2 linked regions of the Homo sapiens genome follow. The protein of the gene in region 1 interacts with the protein of each later gene in a pairwise test. Each region holds a gene or a part of one and is shown on either strand. Other genes may lie near its edges. The genes, in order: ITSN2 and KIAA1549.

Region 1 (9,544 bases):
AAAAATAGCACTTTTGAATATAATATCAAAAGAATCATCCAAGAAAGCAAACATAAAATAATAATAAATGTGGGCCAGTTGCAGTGGCTCACCCCTGTAATCCCAGCACTGCTGGAGGCCAAGGCAGGATGACAGCTTGAGCTCAGGAGTTTGAGACCAGTCTGAGCAACATAGTGAGATTCTGTCTCTACAACAACAATAATCATCATCATCATCATCATTATCATCATCATCAATATGCAATGAGAATTTTTTTAAAGCAAACTCCAAAATCTAACAGGGAAAAAAATTACCAGGAAAAAATAAAATAGAGATATTGTAACATGGAATTTGTTACACTAAAACCAATAGCATACCCAGAAAACATCCTTCACTCACAACACCACCTAACCAAAGCAAGGTCTCACTTCCCCCAAATATTTCAAACCACAAATTTACAAATTCTTTTCATCAACCTGAATTATTTAATTTGAGTGGTCATAGACTTTTTTATTTTAATCTGATAAAACCTATGGTTGTTCTCCCTGGAAAAACACAAATGTACAAAATATGGCACATAATTCTGAAGGTTTCACACATCCAAAGCCAACTGTAGACTTTCAGACAGTTCATGTGTTCCATAGCTTAAATGTTTAATGATAACATACACAAACCCTCATTCTTAAAAAAAGATAATGAAGTGGGAAAGACCCTTCCAATTATGTAATCCACTCATTCCCAAACTATTTTTTTAAAGGAATAAAAGAATGGCTACTCCATAGGCCGAGCAGCAGCCTCATTCCCAAACTATTCTAACCATCACCCACCTAAGTAAGACAAGAGATCCAGCCTACCTACCTCCTCCCATTTTCTAGTGCAAAAATAACTCCCTAAGGAAGAATTGTAGCAATGTAACAAGTACACAAGAGCAAAACGGTCCACAAAAATTTAAATGTAACATTAATTCTACAATTGTATTAATCCAAAAATAACAGCAACTGGAACCACAGCCAATTTGAGACAACACCACTGATGTAGTGAAAATATCTTCTGAGTGTGGGCATGCATAGTACTAATTTTCTAGTGCTGCCAAAGCATGGTATAGCTGACAGATTTCTTAGAAGAAAACTAAACTAGAGCCCTCGGTAAGTTCTAGAAACCAGCTAATTTTAGTTGTGAATACTAAATTTCAGTAATCCTTAGTAACTCAGATTATTGGTAGGTAGCCTATTCTAATACATAAATATCAGAGGTTATGGGAATGGAATAACAATAGCCCCTGAGAACTGAGGAGACGGCTTGTATTTCTGGTTCATGATCCATTAGGAAAAGCTTCTGATCTAGTGAGTGTCTTGGACCATACTGAGGAAGCATTAATCTAAGCCAATAATTTTCAACAATTTTTCCACTGTGATTCTGAGTAATGGCTCACCAATAGTATAAAATTAACCTCCTAAACTGGAACCCACATACATTGCTGGTGGGAATATAAAATAGATCAACTGCTTTGGAAAACAATTCAGAATTTCCTCAAAATGTTAAACATAGGTTACCATGTTAAGTCAGCAATTCCACCCCTCAGTATGAACCCAAGATAAATAAAAACATGTCCCAAAACCTGTACACAAATGCTCACAGCAGCATTATTCACAATAGCCAAAAAGTAGAAGCAACCGAGTGGAAGCAAATGTCCATCAACTACAGATGGATGAATGAATAAACAATAAACAAAATGTGGTATATCCATATAATCCATAAAATATTATTTGGCCATAAAAAGGAATGAAGTACTGATCTATGCTATAACATTGATGAATCTTGAAAACACTATGGTAAGTAAAAGAAGTGAGTCACAAAAGACCATATATTGTATAATTCCATTTATATGAAATGTCTAGGATAGGCAATTTCATAGACACAGAAAGTAGACTAGTGGCTACCTAGAGCTAGCGGTGTTGAGGGAGATGGAAAGTGACTGCCATTGGGTATAGGAGGTTCTTTTAAGAACGACGAAAATGTTCTAAAATTAGATAGTGATACTGGTTGCACAAGTCTGTGAATATACTAAAAAACACTGAACTGTAAACTTTAAAAGGGTGAATTTTACAATATGTATCTCAATAAAGCTGTTTTTAAAAAATCTATTCACGTGACATACAAGGTGTTTTAGGCTCTATCTTCCGCCTACCCTACCAGGTATTTCAACCTCCCCACCTCCACCTCCACTTGATCTTATTCCCATGCCTCCTCTCTTTGCACCTGTGGAACTACCTGCCTTCTGAGTGACACTTCTACTAATAATAGCTTCCTTTGCCACAGTCCCATTTTGTCTTGTATTATCTCATTAAACTACATACCAGCTAGTATTGTTACTTTTGTTTTCACGCCTGCCCCGCTTCTATTAGACTGTGAGCTCCTGAATGGCTCTTTAACTTCATATACCTAGTGCCCAGCAGTCACTCACATGGTAGGCACTAAAATATTCTTTAATAAGCACAGGTTAGCATTCTTTCAACTGCACAGAAGACAAACCCAGCAACTTGAGTTTGAATCCCAGTGCAAGTACTTCCTAGCTTTGTGGACTTGCACATGACATAGCTTCAATTTCCTAACCAAATAATGTGGATACAGTAGACCCCCTTATCTGCAGTTTCACTTTCTGAAGTTTCAGTTACCTGTGGTCAACCATGGTCTCAAAATACAAAATGGATAATTCCAGAAATAAACAATTCATAAATTTTTAATTGTGCACCATCCTGAGTAGCATGGTAAAATCCTGCATTGCCCGCATCTGTCCCAACCAGGATGAAAACCATCCCTTTGTCCAGGGTGTATCCACTGTGTCTATGCTGCCTGCCCATTAGTCACTTAGTAGCTGTCTCAGTTATCAGACCGACTGTCACAGTATCACAGTGCTTGTGTTCAAGTAACCCTTATTTTACTTAATAATGACCCCAAAGTGCAAGAGTAGTGAGGCTGGCAATTCGGATATGCCAAGGAGAAGCCACTTCCTTCAAGTGAAAAGGTGAAAGTTCTCAACTTAATATAGAAGGGAAAAAATTGTATGCTGAGGTTGCTAAGATCTACAGTAAGAACAAGTCTTATATCTGTGAAATTGTTAACAGTATATTGTTATAATTGTTCAATTTTATTATTATTAATCTCTTACTGTGCCTAATTTATAAATTAAACTTTATCATAGGTATGTATATATAGGAAAAAACATAGTGTATATAGGTTTCTGTACCATCCATGGTTTCAAGCAACCACTAGGGGTTTTGGAATGTATTCCTTGCAGACAAGCAAAGTACTACTGTAATCGTACCTAAATGCCAGGTTATTTTAAGGCTTAGATGTCATGTCTGGAAAACATCTGGCACATAGAAGGTGTCCATAAATTATGATTATTACAACAATTATTTCAACATTATTTTAATTATAATCACTAATCAACTTTTAGTTGTAATCACAATCACTAATCACTAATCTAATTTGTTTTACTGAAACAAATTAGAGTTGTGCCAATTATTAATAAAAGGACATGTTTTTCTCACTTTAATCAATATTTGAGAAAAAAGTTATCATTTCTATCTAGAGGCTTAGGGTCCCAAATATACAAAGCATTAAGACCTAAAAGCCTCAAAGAGGATAACTTCTCTATACAAACTTAGTTCTTAATTCTAGTTCTGCAATTTAGCAACCTCAGTTTAGATTTTTAAACACAAATTATAAGCTCAGATTTTTATAAATATTGAGTTTAGCCTTCAAAAAAATCAACCAATAAGCCAGGAGACATAAAAGGACAGGAATAGCAAACTAATACTGAAGTGGTTAGTACTCAAATTCTATTGAAGATTTAAATCAAACCAATTTTTGAAGAATAGTCAACAACTCTGAACAAGACAATTCACCCACACAAAGGGGGATAAAAATACCTAAGAATAGCTTGTGACTCAGCCTGCATTCCTATAAGGGGTCCCAGGGGGACTGATAATATTTAGCCTATTGTCATCTGTCTCATATCAGAACTAAATATTACAGCAAAACTATTTACTTGACATGAATAAAAAGTACAGAGGGAAAGAAATTCAGACAGATGCTTCACTTTCAAGTAAAACATCACCTCTTTGAAACAAAGACAACTTTTAAGTTTTGAAGCCATACAAGAAAACAAAAGAAAGAATAAGCAGATTCTATATCATCTATATAACAAATATTTAAAACTTCCTTGAAAACAAACTTAAAAGGTAAATGGGGAAAAATCACAACACATGATAAGCAGTTGATATTTTTAATGTACATAGGGCTATTAAAATAGATAACGAAAACACTAAGACCTCAAATAAATAATCTACGAAAGAAGAAACAGAAGAAATAAAAGTAGTTAATAAATGTTAACATCACTAATAATTAAGAAAACGAGGCTACCCACAGTGGCTCATGCCTGTAATCCCAGCACTTTGGGAGGCTGAGTGGGGGCGAATCGTCTGAACTCAGGAGTTTGAGGCCAGCCTGGGAAACATGGTGTAAACCTGCCTCAATAAAAACTACAAAAAAATTAGTTGGTCCCAGCGGGAGGCTGAGGTGGGAGGATGGCTTGAGCCCAGGAGAAGGAGGTTGCAGTGAGCTGAGATGGCAGTGAGCTGAGATCCCGCCACTGCACTCCAGCCTGGGCAACAGAGCCAGACCCTGTCTCAAAGACAAAACAAAACAAAACACTGGCCAATACCCAGGGCTAGCAAAGGTGAATTAAATAGGGTGCTTGCAGGTACAGCCCATGGGAATACGTATTGGTATCACTCTTCAGAAGGCACTGTGAAAACATATATCAAGAGTCCCACCAACATTCATATCCTATAAAGCAATAATTTCATTTCTGGGAATCTGTCATAAGGAAATAACAGTAAATGTGGGAAATGCTTTAATTACAAAGATATGGCAGCATTAGTAATCATTGAAAAAAACTAAAAATGAATGTCCAAAAATAAAGGAATATACTAAGCCAAGTATCATGCTTCCACTTAAAATCAAATTCATATGATATGTGAATTAAATCTCAATAAAGCTATTTTGTGATCAAGTTCAGTTAGACCACATAATAACATGGAAACTGCTTATGTTCTTACAATTTAAAACTTACATTTTGATATAAATGTGCATATTTATTATGAAAATTAAAACAGCAGCCATCAATCATCAATATTTACTAAGTGCCAAGCCCTACACTACAAGTTGTTACATGTTATCATGGTTACCTCATTATCACTGATACCATCACCAGGCCCATCCTGGAAGGGTCTCAGGCCCAAGGCCATCACCAACTGTGGGGCTGGCCCAAGATAAACCACACTTTAAAGAAGGCTTCACTAAACATTTTCATAGGCCCCTTGAGAATGTTAAAAACAAATTTGGAAATTGAGCCCAGTGGGATTGTGGGTCTGTACTACCCTACTTTTCAGCCTTCTTATATAGATTATTCCGATGGTAAGATTAAAAATTAAGGGCAAAAGGCTAATTTCCTTTCCAGTCACGGTGTAAAACAAAGACCAAAATAAGAACTATGTTAGGTTAGTTTGAAATTTCTCACTGAACCAAGTTAAAACAACAGGTAACATTAGGCACTTACACTAAGCAGAAGTCACTGTGCTAAGCACTTTATATTACATATAACAACACTAGGAACTAGCTAATATTTCCCCATTTCACACATAAGGAAACAGAAGCTGAAGAGAATTAAAGTAACTTGCCCAAGATTATACAGTTATTTGGTGTCAGAGCTGGAAGCAGGTCTAACTTCAGAGGCTGTACTCTTATCCTCTATGGTTATGATGAAAATAAATGAAATTTTTATTAAAATCACATATACTTTATCTAAAATGAATACGCATTCGTGAAGAAAATGATCTTAAAAATATGAAACAGTTAAATAAAACAAATGTTTACCGTCTGGTAATAGTCCCCTAATCCACTAAATGTCTGCCATAATCCACTGCTGAATAGCTCCACAAGTAAATAAATCATTTAATGTCCTGATGTATCTATGAAATTATATTTTAAGTGAACCTTTTGAAACAATACTATACATTCTGCAAATGAAATATGCTGCCCTCTTGGAGCTGTGAAAATACATATTTCTTGATCTATTAACTGTCCTAATTCTGTTCAGTTTCCTCCCTTCCTCTCCCACTTCCTCTTTGCTCTCATATCCTTTAAGACCAGTTCAGTTCCTCCTCCTCAAGAATACCTATATTCACACTTTACCCAAGAGAACTCTAACATTAGTTTCTGCGCTCCACAGCTGTAGGATGTTACAAAATCCAAAAAATGAACTCAAGTAAAAAATACAGTATTTCTGATGTACCTTCAACTTTAGATCTATCCACTTACAGAATTAATTATAAACATTCTTATTTTTCTACTTCACACTTGGAATCCTGTCTTTAAAATCAGCACACAGTAACCAAAACAGCATGGCACTGGTACCAAAACAGACATATAAGCCAATGGAGCAGAACAGAGACCTCAGAAATAACACCACACATCTACAACCATCTGATCTTCAACAAACAAGACAAAAACAAGCAATGGGGAAAGGATCTCCTATTCTGTAAATGGTGCTGGGAAAATTGGCTAGCCATATGCAGAAAACTGAAACTGGACCACTTCCTTACACCTTATACAAAAATTAACTTGAGATGAATTAAAGACTTAAATATAAAATCCAAAACCATAAAACCCTAGAAGAAAACCTAGGCAATACCATTCAGGACATAGGCATGGGCAAAGACTTCATGACAAAAATGCCAAAAGCAATTGCAACAAAAGCCAAAATTGACAAATAGGATCTAATTAAACTAAAGAGCTTCTGCACAGCAAAAGAAACTATCATCAGGCTGGGTGCAGTGGCTCATGCCTATAATCCCAGCACTATAGGAGGCCGAGGTGGGAGGATCACCTGAGGTCAGGAATTCCAGACCAGCCTGGCCTGCATGGTGAAACCCTGTCTCTATTTTTAAAAAATTACAAAAAGGCCAGGCATAGTGGCTCACATCTGTAATCCCAGCACTTTGGGAGGCCGAGGCGGGTGGATCACCTGAGGTCAGGAATTTGAGACCAGCCTGGACATGGTGAAACCCCATCTCTACTAAAAATACAAAAATTAGCTGGGCATGGTGGCAGGCGCCTGTAATCCCAGCTACTCAGGAGGCTGAGGCAGGAGAATCACACTTGAACCCCGGAGGCTGAGGTTGCAGTGAGCCAAGATCGCACCATTGCACTCCAGCCTGGGGGACAAGAGCGAGACTCCATCTCAAAAAAAAAAAAAATAGCTGGACGTGGTGGCACATGCCTATAATCCCAGCTACTTGGGAGGTGAACCTGGTAGGCAGAGATTGTGGTGAGCCAAGATGGCACCACGGCACTCCAGCCTGGGAGACAGAGCAAGACCCTGTCTCAAAAAAAAAAAAAAAAAGAAAGAAAAAAAGAAACTATCATCAGAGTGAACAGGCAACCCACAGAACGGGAGAAAATTTTTGCAATCTATCCATCTGACAAAGGTCTAATATCCAGAATTTACAAGGAACTTAAACATATCTACAAGAAAAAAAAAACCCCACCAAAAAGTGGGCAAAGGATATGAATAGACACTTCTCAAAAGAAGACATTTTTGAGGCCAACAAACATGAAAAAAGGCTCAACATCACTGATCATCAGAGAACTGCAAATCAAAACCACAATGATGGCCGGGTGCAGTGGCTCAAGCCTGTAATCCCAGCACTTTGGGAGGCCAAGGCGGGTGGCTCATCTGAGGTTGGGAGTTCTAGACCAGCCTGGCCAACATGTCTCTACTAAAAAGACAAAAATTGGCAGGGCGTGGTGGCAGGCGTCTGTAATCCCAGCTACTCAGGAGGCTGAGGCAGAAGAATCACTTGAACCCAGGAGGCGGAGGTTGCAGTGAGTTGGGATCGCGCCATTGCACTCCAGACTGGGCAACAAGAGTGAGACTCCGTCTCAAAAAAAAAAAAACACAATGAGATACCATTTCATGCCAGTCAGAATGGTGATTATTAAAAAGTCAGGAAAACAATAGATGCTGGCAAGTCTGTGGCGAAATGGAACGCTTTTACACTGTTGCTGGGAATGTAAATTGGTTCAACCATAGTGGAAGATAGTATGGCAATTCCTCAAGGATCTAGAACCAGAAATATCATTTGACCCAGCAATCTCATTAATGGGTATATACCCAAAGGAATAGAAATCATTCTACTCTAAAGACACATGCACACGTATGTTTACTACAGCACTATTTACAATAGCAAAGACACCAAACCAACCCAAATGCCCGTCAATGATAGACTGGATAAAGAAAATGTGATATACATACACCATGGAATACTATGCAGCCATAAAAAGGAATGAGATCATGTCCTTTGCAGGGACATGGACGAAACTGGAAGCCATCATCCTCAGCAAACTAACACAGGAACAGAAAATCAAACACCCTATGTTCTCACTCATAAGTGGGAGTTGAACATTGAGAACACATGGACACAGAGGGGAACAACACACACCAGGACCTGTTGTGGGGGGGCAATGAGGGAAGGGGACTTAGAGGACGGGTGAATAGGTGCAGCAAACCACCACGGTGCACGTATACCTATGTAACAAACCTGTACGTTCTGCACATATATCCTGTTTTTTTTGTAAGAAATAAAAAAAAATCGGCACACAAGAAAGTCTGCCTTTCTTCAAAAACAGTTTTTTCACAAATTTTTTCCATAAATAAAAAAGGTACTAAAAAAACTTGAATCCAAAAAAAGAAAAAGAAAATGCACCGTTAGATGGTAATAAATATATCACATTTTTGGTAATGTAACTCGTTTATTCTGAATCATTTCTGGAACTTGTTAATATAAATGTTTTACAAGTAAATACAATATGTAAAAATGCTACTTAATGGACTAATATGTACTTTCACTCATTCACTAAACACATATTTTTTACTGAATGCCCATATAACTTTTTTTTTCTTTTTTTTGTTTGAGACGGAGTCTCACTCTGTCGCCTAGGCTGGAGTGCAGTGGTGCGATCTCGGTTCACTGCAACCTCCGCCTCCCGGGTTCAACGATTCTCCTGCCTCAGCCTCCTGAGTACCTGGGACTACAGGCGCACGCCACCATGCCAGGCTAATTTTTTGTATTTTTTAGTAGAGACAGGATTTCACCTTATTGGTCAGTCTCAAACTCCTGACCTGGTGATCCGCCCTCCTCGGCCTCCCAAAGTGCTGGGATTACAGGCATGAGCCAGGGCACCCGGCACATAGATAACTCTTTTTTAAATGTATGAACCAAGATGACTCTACCAGATAAGGCACAGGTGCTGCAGTTAAAAGGATCTTGGTTTGAAACCTGGCTATTGTACTTACTAGCTCAGAGACCTAAAGTAGTCAAACTTCAGGTTAACATTTCACTTACCTTTTTGATGGGAAGATAATAATTACTCCTAGGGCCTTAGTGAGCTTTAAATGATTATGTAAAACACTTAGCATAGAGTCTAACATGCAGTT
Region 2 (9,544 bases), on another chromosome or scaffold:
GTCTGGCCTTATGTTTATCATTTATTCTCTATTCTCAGATCTTCCTGCTGAGGCAATAACCCTTCTATTTGAAGGTTATCCTTATTTAGAAGCTCATTTACTGTGGGTCTTCTTTTGGTATAACCACTGTTAAGCTGAAAATGTCTTGATAGAGATTTTTCCTGGTTATTCACCTCTGAGATGTCAGAGAGTTTCTCTCAGCACTTGAGGATTTTGTTTCATTGTCACCTGGCTTCTAATTCTGTCAGGCAGTTATTTTTGCTTAAGTTTAGCTGCTGTTTCCTTTTTCTCTGACTGCTTTTACAATTTCTCTTTGTCTTTGGTCTATGGTATCATGATGTGTATAGGTTTGGATTTTTCTTTTTTTTTAATTCACCCTCCTTGGGATTTTTTGGTCTTTCTGAATTGCATGGTTCGTTTCTCATATTAATTTTGGCAAATTCTTAGCACTATGTCTTTGAATATTGTATCTACCCTATTCCATTTTATTTTTTTCCTAAAACTTTGATCAAATGTATGTTGGACTGTCTTATTCTGTCTTCTATGTCTCTTAACTTCTTTTTTTAATATTTCACATTTATTTGTTTCCCTGTTCCCTTTTCTGAGTAATTTCTTCAGACCTATCCCCCAGTTCACTAAATCTTGTTTCAGCTCTGTCTAAATTGCTGTTTTACATGTATATTGAGTTTAAAATTTATTAATTATAAAATTTTTATTTCTAAATGTTTTAAAAATATTTCTGGCCAACTTTTATAGTCTCTTGCTCATTACTCATGTTTTCAGTCTTTATTATTTTAAATGAATTAAATATAACCTTAAAAAATGGGTCTCATAATTCCAATATCTAAAGTTTTTATAGATCTGATTCAATTTAGTTGGCCTTTTAAAAAAATACTTTCTTCATGGGATTTCTCTTGACTTTTGTTCATGGTACTTTGCTTTCCTATGTATTTTATAATTTTTACTTCTGTGCTCTGCAACTCTAGCTGCAGGAATACTTTGAAACCAGACTGTGAATATGTTCTTCTGGGTGTGATTTATGTTAGTTTCTGACAGGCGCTGGAGACCTGGTCCACTTTAAATTATGACTCTAAGCATACAGTTGTTAGGACTATACAAGTAGTATAGGTTCCACACTCGGGATGACGTTTCGTACAATAGCTATACAAAGTCAGAGCTGAGACATATACTTTTCCCTTGTTTGGCTTAAACAGCAGAAATTGATTGTCTCACCGTTCTGGAGGCTAGAAGTCCAAGTTCAAGGGTGGCTTCCTTCTGAAGCCTGTGAGGGAGAATCTGCTTCAGGGCTGTCCCCTAGCTGCTGGTGATTTGCTGTCAATCTTTGCTGTTCCTTGACTTGTAGACGCATCATCATGCTCTCTGCCTTCATCTTCACATGGTGTTCTCCTTCTGTGTATGTCTGTGTCCAAATTTCTGCCTTTTTTTATTTTTATTTTTTTTTGAGACGGAGTCTCACTTTGTCTCCCAGGCTGGAGTGCAGTGGTGCAATCACGGCTCTCTGAACCCTCCGCCTCCTGGGTTCAAGCGATTCTCCTGCCTCAGCCTCCTGAGTAGCTGGGATGACAGGTGTGTGCCACCATACCCGGCTAATTTTTGTATTTTTAGTGGAGATGGGGTTTTGCCACGTTGGCCAGGCTGGACTCGAACTCCTGACCTCATGATCCGCCCTCCTCGGCCTTCCAAAGTGCTGGGATTACAGGCCTGAGCCACCGCGCCTGGCCCAAATTTCCATCTTTTATACGGTCACCAGTATATTAGATGAGGGACCCACCCTACTTCAGTATGACCGCATCTCAGCTAATTACATCTACACTGACCCTGTTTCCGAATATGGTCATATTGTGAGGTCCTGGGATTTCAACATAGGAATATTGGGAGCACGTAATACATAAGCCATAGCAGTGTCTTAACCTGGGTTTTCCGCCAGAAAGCAAAGTCTGAGACGTGGGTTTATGTGCATATTTTATTCTAGGACATGATCCTGAGGAACAGAAGTGAGAGACTGAGGAGAGTTCAACAGGGAAAAGGGAAAGTCAGTCCAAGGTGTTCTCAAGTCAGACACTATTAGAAACCGATGCCTGTTTTTGCTGTCTTCTGAAAAGTGGATATTTTTCTTCCTAATTCACTCTTTCCCTGAGATTATGACACTTCCTGGGCCTCCACTTTTGGAAAATGGTCTTCAGTTGGGTTCTTTCCTTATCTAGGCTAACACTTGTCCCTCATCTCCGTTGTGGCCTAAACAACAGGCCAGCTGGTCCAGTACCTGCCTTGGGTCCCCAGTCACTGCCCTTGAGCAGCTCCTGTTTTATTCCTGGATTCAGCACGTTCCCCTTACTGTCTTGCAGGCCATCCAGTCACTTAGAAGATGGTTTTTAAACATTTATTAAGCAATCTTAAATGTTCTGAAGTAGACAGTTTCAAGATCTCTAGTCTGCCATGTTGCTAGAAACAGAATAGAAATGACTTACTTAAAAAAATAGAGTAAATTCAAGACTGTCCTTATACCATTTCACACAGGTATGTTCTGATAGACTGTTGGGATTAGAGAAACGAGGTGTTGTTATGCATTTTGATAGTTGCTCAGTTCTCAGCCTGGGCTGCAGAGGACAGTCCCTGGGCCCTGGGCTTTCATCAGTGGCTGGGCCATCACTTGTCCTTTTTCTCTAGGCTATGTCATACCTGAATTATCGGTGGAGAGGCCTCAACTTACTAAATGATAATGACAGCAGTCACAAGTTAAGGAATACAAAAGTTTGAATGGATGATGGGATAATGTTGGCTTTTGTTGTCAGAACTTGGTATCCTTGGATTTCATTCATTCATTCATTCATTCATTCATCAATCCAAGTGATGTCAATTGAGCTCCTAGCACTTATTGTGCTAGGCACTGGGGAGACAGGTAAACAATGCCTGTCCTTAGGAAGCCCAGAATCTAGTGATCAGATAGTTCATTTCAGTGGGCATGATAAGGACAGGGAGAAGCCTAGGGAGAGGCACGAATCCAACTTCAGAGCATCGAGGATGAAGCTCATATCTGTGCTGCATCTGAAGGGCCAGAAGGAGCCATCCATATAGAGAGCTGGGGAAGGGCATTCCAGGCGGGGGTGAGAGGATCCATCCATGTAGAGAGCTGGGAAGGGCATTCCAGGCGGGGGTGAGAATGTGCACAGCCATGGAGGCCAGAGAGTGTTTGGGTTTGGGGCACTGCAGGTGCCAGAGCATAGCTGGGAAGGCCTAGAGTGGGGCAGGAAATGGTGAAAGCTGAGGCTGCAGGAAGCCTGGGGCCTTCATGTGGAAGCCTCAGCAACTGTGTTGGGGAGCACAGCTGAGGAACTGGGGAACTCTCTTACTTGGGTAGTGAGAGATGCAATGAGTTGTCATGTTCATTTCTCGTAGCAGCCAGCTCCTATCACTGAAGAGAAAACACACAGGCCTTGGAGTCAAGGAAGCCTTATATTCAGATTCCAGTTCCACTCTGTCTGGGTGGTCTTATAATTGATTTATTTACCTTCTGGAAACCTTTCTTTACTCATGTCATAAATGAGAGAAAATGGACTGAACAGCCCCCTCTGTTTCCAGTATCCTACGGTTCTGTGGGAAAAACTGTAAATATGCCCTCCCCACCCCCACACATACACAGCTTAGGTAAAAACAGTGCCCAAGTTTAGGAATATTTGCAGATATTGTCCTGATGGTAATTCTGTCAATTTCTCGTTTCCAGCTAGCTGTTTAACTTCTGACGGTGATTCATGGATATTTATGGTGAATGGATGTTTGTTAAATGAGTAAATTCTCATGCCTGAAACAAAACGTTAGCTGTGTGACTTCCAATGCATTGCACTAACCCAGCTCTGATTTTCTTGATAGATGAGCTCTCTCCGGAACAGCACAACCTTTCTTTATACTCCATGGAGCTCGTGCTGAAGAAAAGCACTGGGCACAGCGCTGCACAAGTGGCCTTAACAGAAACTGCTCCCGGCTCCCAGCACAGCAGTCCTCTCCATGTCACAGCCCCGCCGTCTGCCACTACTTTTGATACAGCCTTTTTTAACCAAGGAAAACAGACCAAAAGTACAGCAGATCCCAGCATCTTTGTGGCAACTTACGTGTCAGTGACGAGTAAAGAGGTGGCCGTCAATGACGATGAGATGGATAACTTTCTGCCAGATACTCACTGGACCACTCCACGGATGGTTTCTCCAATACAGTATATCACAGTCAGCCCACCAGGGCTGCCCAGGGAAGCATTAGAACCTATGCTCACTCCATCATTACCCATGGTTTCTTTACAAGATGAAGAAGTGACATCGGGCTGGCAGAACACAACGCGACAACCAGCGGCATATGCTGAGTCCGCCAGTCATTTCCACACCTTTCGGTCAGCTTTTCGCACCTCTGAGGGCATCGTTCCAACTCCTGGCAGGAATTTGGTGCTTTATCCTACTGATGCTTACAGTCATTTATCAAGCAGGACTCTGCCAGAGATTGTGGCTTCCCTAACAGAGGGTGTGGAAACCACCCTTTTTTTAAGCTCCCGGTCTTTAATGCCACAGCCGTTAGGCGACGGCATTACTATACCGTTGCCCTCCTTGGGGGAGGTCTCACAGCCTCCAGAGGAGGTTTGGGCCACAAGTGCAGACAGATACACTGATGTGACCACTGTGTTGAGTCAAAGCCTAGAAGAAACCATCTCTCCAAGAACATACCCCACTGTGACTGCATCGCACGCAGCCCTTGCATTCAGCAGGACACATTCTCCATTGCTTTCAACTCCTCTTGCATTTGCGTCCTCTGCTTCACCAACTGATGTTTCATCTAACCCCTTTCTCCCTAGCGACTCCAGCAAAACATCCGAATTGCATAGCAATTCAGCCCTCCCCGGTCCTGTGGACAACACTCATATCCTGAGCCCGGTGTCCTCATTCAGACCATACACTTGGTGTGCGGCCTGCACTGTGCCTTCACCTCAGCAAGTTCTGGCCACGAGCCTCATGGAGAAAGACGTGGGATCAGGGGATGGTGCCGAGACTCTGTGCATGACCGTGCTGGAAGAAAGCAGCATCTCTCTAATGAGTAGCGTCGTAGCAGACTTCTCTGAATTTGAGGAAGATCCTCAAGTATTTAATACGCTTTTCCCCTCCAGACCTATCGTCCCACTTTCTTCTAGATCCATGGAAATCTCAGAGACGAGTGTTGGCATTTCTGCCGAGGTGGATATGAGTAGTGTTACAACCACACAGGTTCCCCCTGCCCACGGCCGCCTCTCTGTGCCGGCGTCACTTGATCCTACTGCTGGCTCCTTGTCTGTTGCTGAAACCCAAGTGACGCCATCCAGCGTGACCACTGCATTTTTCTCGGTCATCACCAGCATTCTCCTTGACTCATCTTTCTCTGTCATAGCAAACAAAAACACACCGTCGCTTGCCGTCAGAGACCCGAGTGTTTTTACGCCTTATAGTCTGGTTCCTTCAGTGGAGTCTTCACTTTTCTCTGACCAAGAACGTTCCAGTTTTTCTGAGCATAAACCCAGAGGTGCTTTGGATTTTGCATCCAGCTTTTTCTCAACACCCCCGCTGGAACTCAGCGGCTCCATCTCTTCGCCTTCGGAAGCACCTGCGTCTCTGTCTCTGATGCCGAGTGACTTGTCCCCCTTCACATCTCAGTCTTTTTCTCCCTTGGTTGAGACATTTACATTGTTTGACTCTAGTGATCTGCAGTCATCTCAGCTGTCTCTTCCCAGTTCCACAAATCTTGAGTTTTCGCAGCTCCAGCCAAGTTCCGAGCTGCCTTTAAACACCATCATGTTGCTACCTAGCCGTTCTGAGGTGTCACCATGGTCAAGCTTCCCTTCTGATTCTCTCGAGTTTGTTGAAGCGTCTACGGTTTCACTGACGGATTCAGAAGCTCATTTTACCTCAGCTTTCATTGAAACTACCTCCTATCTTGAGTCTTCACTCATTTCCCATGAATCCGCAGTCACTGCACTGGTGCCCCCCGGCTCTGAGTCTTTTGACATTTTGACTGCCGGGATTCAAGCAACATCACCATTGACCACTGTCCACACAACGCCCATTTTAACTGAGTCTTCTTTGTTCTCAACTCTGACACCTCCTGACGACCAAATCAGTGCTCTAGACGGTCACGTGTCTGTCCTGGCCTCTTTCTCCAAAGCCATTCCCACTGGTACGGTGTTGATCACTGACGCGTACCTGCCATCAGGATCCTCGTTTGTTTCTGAAGCAACCCCCTTCCCTCTGCCCACAGAGCTGACCGTCGTGGGCCCATCACTCACACCCACAGAGGTGCCACTGAACACCTCCACGGAAGTGAGCACAACCAGCACCGGTGCTGCCACTGGTGGTCCCCTCGACTCCACCCTGATGGGTGACGCCGCAAGTCAGAGCCCCCCAGAGAGTAGTGCTGCTCCTCCCCTGCCATCCCTGCGTCCCGTGACTGCCTTCACTCTCGAAGCAACAGTCGACACACCAACACTGGCTACTGCCAAGCCGCCATATGTTTGTGATATCACAGTCCCCGATGCCTATCTGATCACAACTGGTAAGGCCCAGCTTCCTGCCGCCTCTCTGGGGTGGGCAATCTTTCTAAGGAGCTTGTGTGCAGTGCCTGTGAGGCTTGGAGCTTCATGGTTAAGAGCAGAGGCGCTGGGCTCAGTTAACTCCCAGGTAGTACTCCTATGCTTACCTCCTGCGAGTTCTCAGAACAGTTATTTATCCTCTCTAATCGTCTGCTGCCTCACCCATTAAACAAGGAGCTTAGTTAAACCTGCTTCATTGGGCTGTTGTTCAGATGTAAATGCGTTAGTCCCTGCAGAACGCTCAGCCCTTGCCTAGTACATCAGAGGCATGCACGGGATGGTGCATATTAGTCAGCAGTCACAAGGAGAATAAATATTAGAACAAATACAAGAACTAAACAAGCCTTGGAAGTTCTTGGTAGGATCTTTGTCCTACCATAACCCAGTAGGTGCATGGATGACATAGTTTAAACAAAATACTTTTTTGTTTAATTCAAGCAATGAGTTGGGCAACTATGTAAGGGCAACCCTTGCAATTTCTTACTCATTTACTCTTCTTACTTTTCCTTGAAAGGAGACTGCACTTTGCTCTCATAGGTCCCTGTAAATGCCCCTTGGGTCCCGAGGAAAGAAAAGTAAAGTGACTCTTTGCTCTTATAGGTCCCTGTAAATGCTCCTTGGGTCCCGAGGAAAGAAAAGTAGTGACTAAATATCCTCTGAATCCAGTATCAGCCTTTGGTCTCCTCCCCACCACAGCCTGGGTTGCTAGCAGACTGGCCAGCAGCTTCCCTTGCAGTTGCATGGCTGCTGTGGCCGCGTGAAGCTGGTGCCCACCTGAGGGCATGCCTGAGAGGTAGACTGATTTCAAGGGTCATGTCCCGCGACGGTGGCCCGCTTGGTCAGGGTCTCTGCATTTTTCCTCATGAGACATGACAGGTGTATGTGGTCTCGAGGGTCATGACTGTGTGCTGAACCACAGCCTGGTGGTGACGAGCAGCCTGTCCTCTGTTTTGATTTTGGTAGGAGTGGAGGACAGAAATGAAAAAGGGGACGAAAACGGCAGAAGAGGTAGGGAGGAGTGGGGTGGAGTGGACCGGGAAGGAGAGGAGCAGAGAATGTGGAAGGGGGAGAAGGAGGAGAACACGCTGGGTCTTTTCCTCTCTGTGGTCGGGGTTGCTGGGAGCCTCTGCTCACTGTGACAGTGCCACATCCCTCTGGGCAGGTGGGAGCGAGGATCCTGATGGCAGGTACACGTCAGTGATCAACACCCTACCTGTGGGAATGGCTTTGGAGAATGAGTCCAGGACAGCCTTTGCTCCCCACACGCCAAAGGGAAACATTCGTTATTCCACATGGCAAGTAATGATTGAGCACCTAGTATGTGTGAGGTGCTTCTGGAAGCTTCTAGGGATATACAGATGGGTAAGACACGGCCCTCCTGTGAGCAGCTCAGGGCCTAGAGGGTGGTACTGAACCACAGAGTAATAGCAGTGACTGTGGAATTCTCCAAGAGTGGCTATTTGGGATAATCAGAGACGGGTTTGGAAGAATGTGAAATTGGGGATTCCCACAAAAGGAAAAGTAGAATTGTCATCTGGGGATGAAGAGAAAGTGTCTTCTGGGGGAGGAGACTGTCATCATGGCTGGAGATTAGGCATTGTGATGGGAGGAGCAGGTAATTATGCTTGGAAATGTGGTTGGAGCAACATCATGAACTTGAATCTGAAGATTAGAGCAGTCCAGGGAGGAGGGAAAAGAGTTTCTCATGCTCATGATACTTTTCTTCCTTCTTACAAAATTATTACAAAGTAGGTACAAAATTGTTACAAAGTGGTCAGTTGTAAGCAGCTTATTTAAAGAGTCACTGAAAGCTTCTTTAGGAGTCCTCATAGCTGGATTTAACTTTCATATGTGGTGTACACTTAATGACATTTGGTGCCTGTATTAGGTATCCATGTATTTTTAACAGCTCTTTGGAGTAAAATTCAGCCATTGTTAAGTACACTTGAACAGTTTTTGTAAATGTCCAGAGTTGTGTGTGAGTGTCCATGCTGTTAAATTGTGTCTTTTAGCGGAGATAAGTGCCATTTTTGTTCCTGGTGATACCTTTGACCCAGAGGAAGTATCGGCTCATTTCTTACCTTTGCTTAGGTTGGACCTTGCTGTCCTTTTCATGGTTGTCCGTTAGTGAGAGAGTGTGGTGAGGGGGTTGAGGTGACTCCGCGTACCCCTGAAAGGATTCTTCCTGTGTGCTCTGTGATGATGAAGCGGAGCCACTCTGGGTGCTGGGGGTCTGCGATGGCGGAGGAAGCACTTGCCTGCACGCGCCCTGGGAGGCATGAGCCGCGCTTCCACCCAGGGCCTTTCTGACCCTGTGCTGCCTCTGGAAGTCTCTGTCACCTCTCTTCTCTTAGCTCTGGGAAACATTCATTTAGGAAAAGATCTGTAAGATATTTGTTTGCTGATGATCCCTTTTCCCAAAGACTGGTGTCCTCATATCCTAATGTTGCAGTTTTATAGCTTTCTCAGATTCTCTGGAGAAAGTGGAGGTCATGGTGGTGGCTGTGGGGACTTTGCAGAGTGGCATTTAGACCGATGATGTCTTTAGCTGTGTGGGGCTGCTTACAATGTGTTCTTCCTGCTTTCCTATTTAGGGATTTTCTGTTTCTGACTTCCCATTCTGCCTCTGTTTCCCCCGAGTTTAGCTCTTGCCTCCCTCCCTCCCTCCCTGCCTTCCTCCCTTCCTTTCTTCCTTCCTTCCTTCTTTCCTTCTCCCTCCTCTCCCTCCCTCCTCCTTTTCTGTCCCCTCCTCCTTCCTGTCTCCCTCCTCCCTCCTGTCTCCCTCTTTCCTCATTTCTCCCTCCCTCTTCATTTCCTTCCTTAAATAAGGCATCTTTCCTTCTTGCCACTCTTCCCCCTTTCCTTCCTCCTCATTTTATCTTTCCCTTTCAGATCTATAGCATAGTCCAACCCACTTGGAGCCTATGT

What was found.
Region 2: the proteins of ITSN2 (region 1) and KIAA1549 interact in a two-hybrid assay, tested with the Homo sapiens proteins (one study listed by BioGRID and IntAct).

Annotation. Positions count from the first base shown.
Region 1 is NC_000002.12:24,348,913-24,358,456, forward strand, and holds part of ITSN2 (intersectin-2), read right to left. Parts: intron 1-9,544.
Region 2 is NC_000007.14:138,913,783-138,923,326, reverse strand, and holds part of KIAA1549 (UPF0606 protein KIAA1549), read left to right. Parts: intron 1-3,888; coding exon 3,889-6,579; intron 6,580-9,544. UniProt on the Homo sapiens protein: May play a role in photoreceptor function.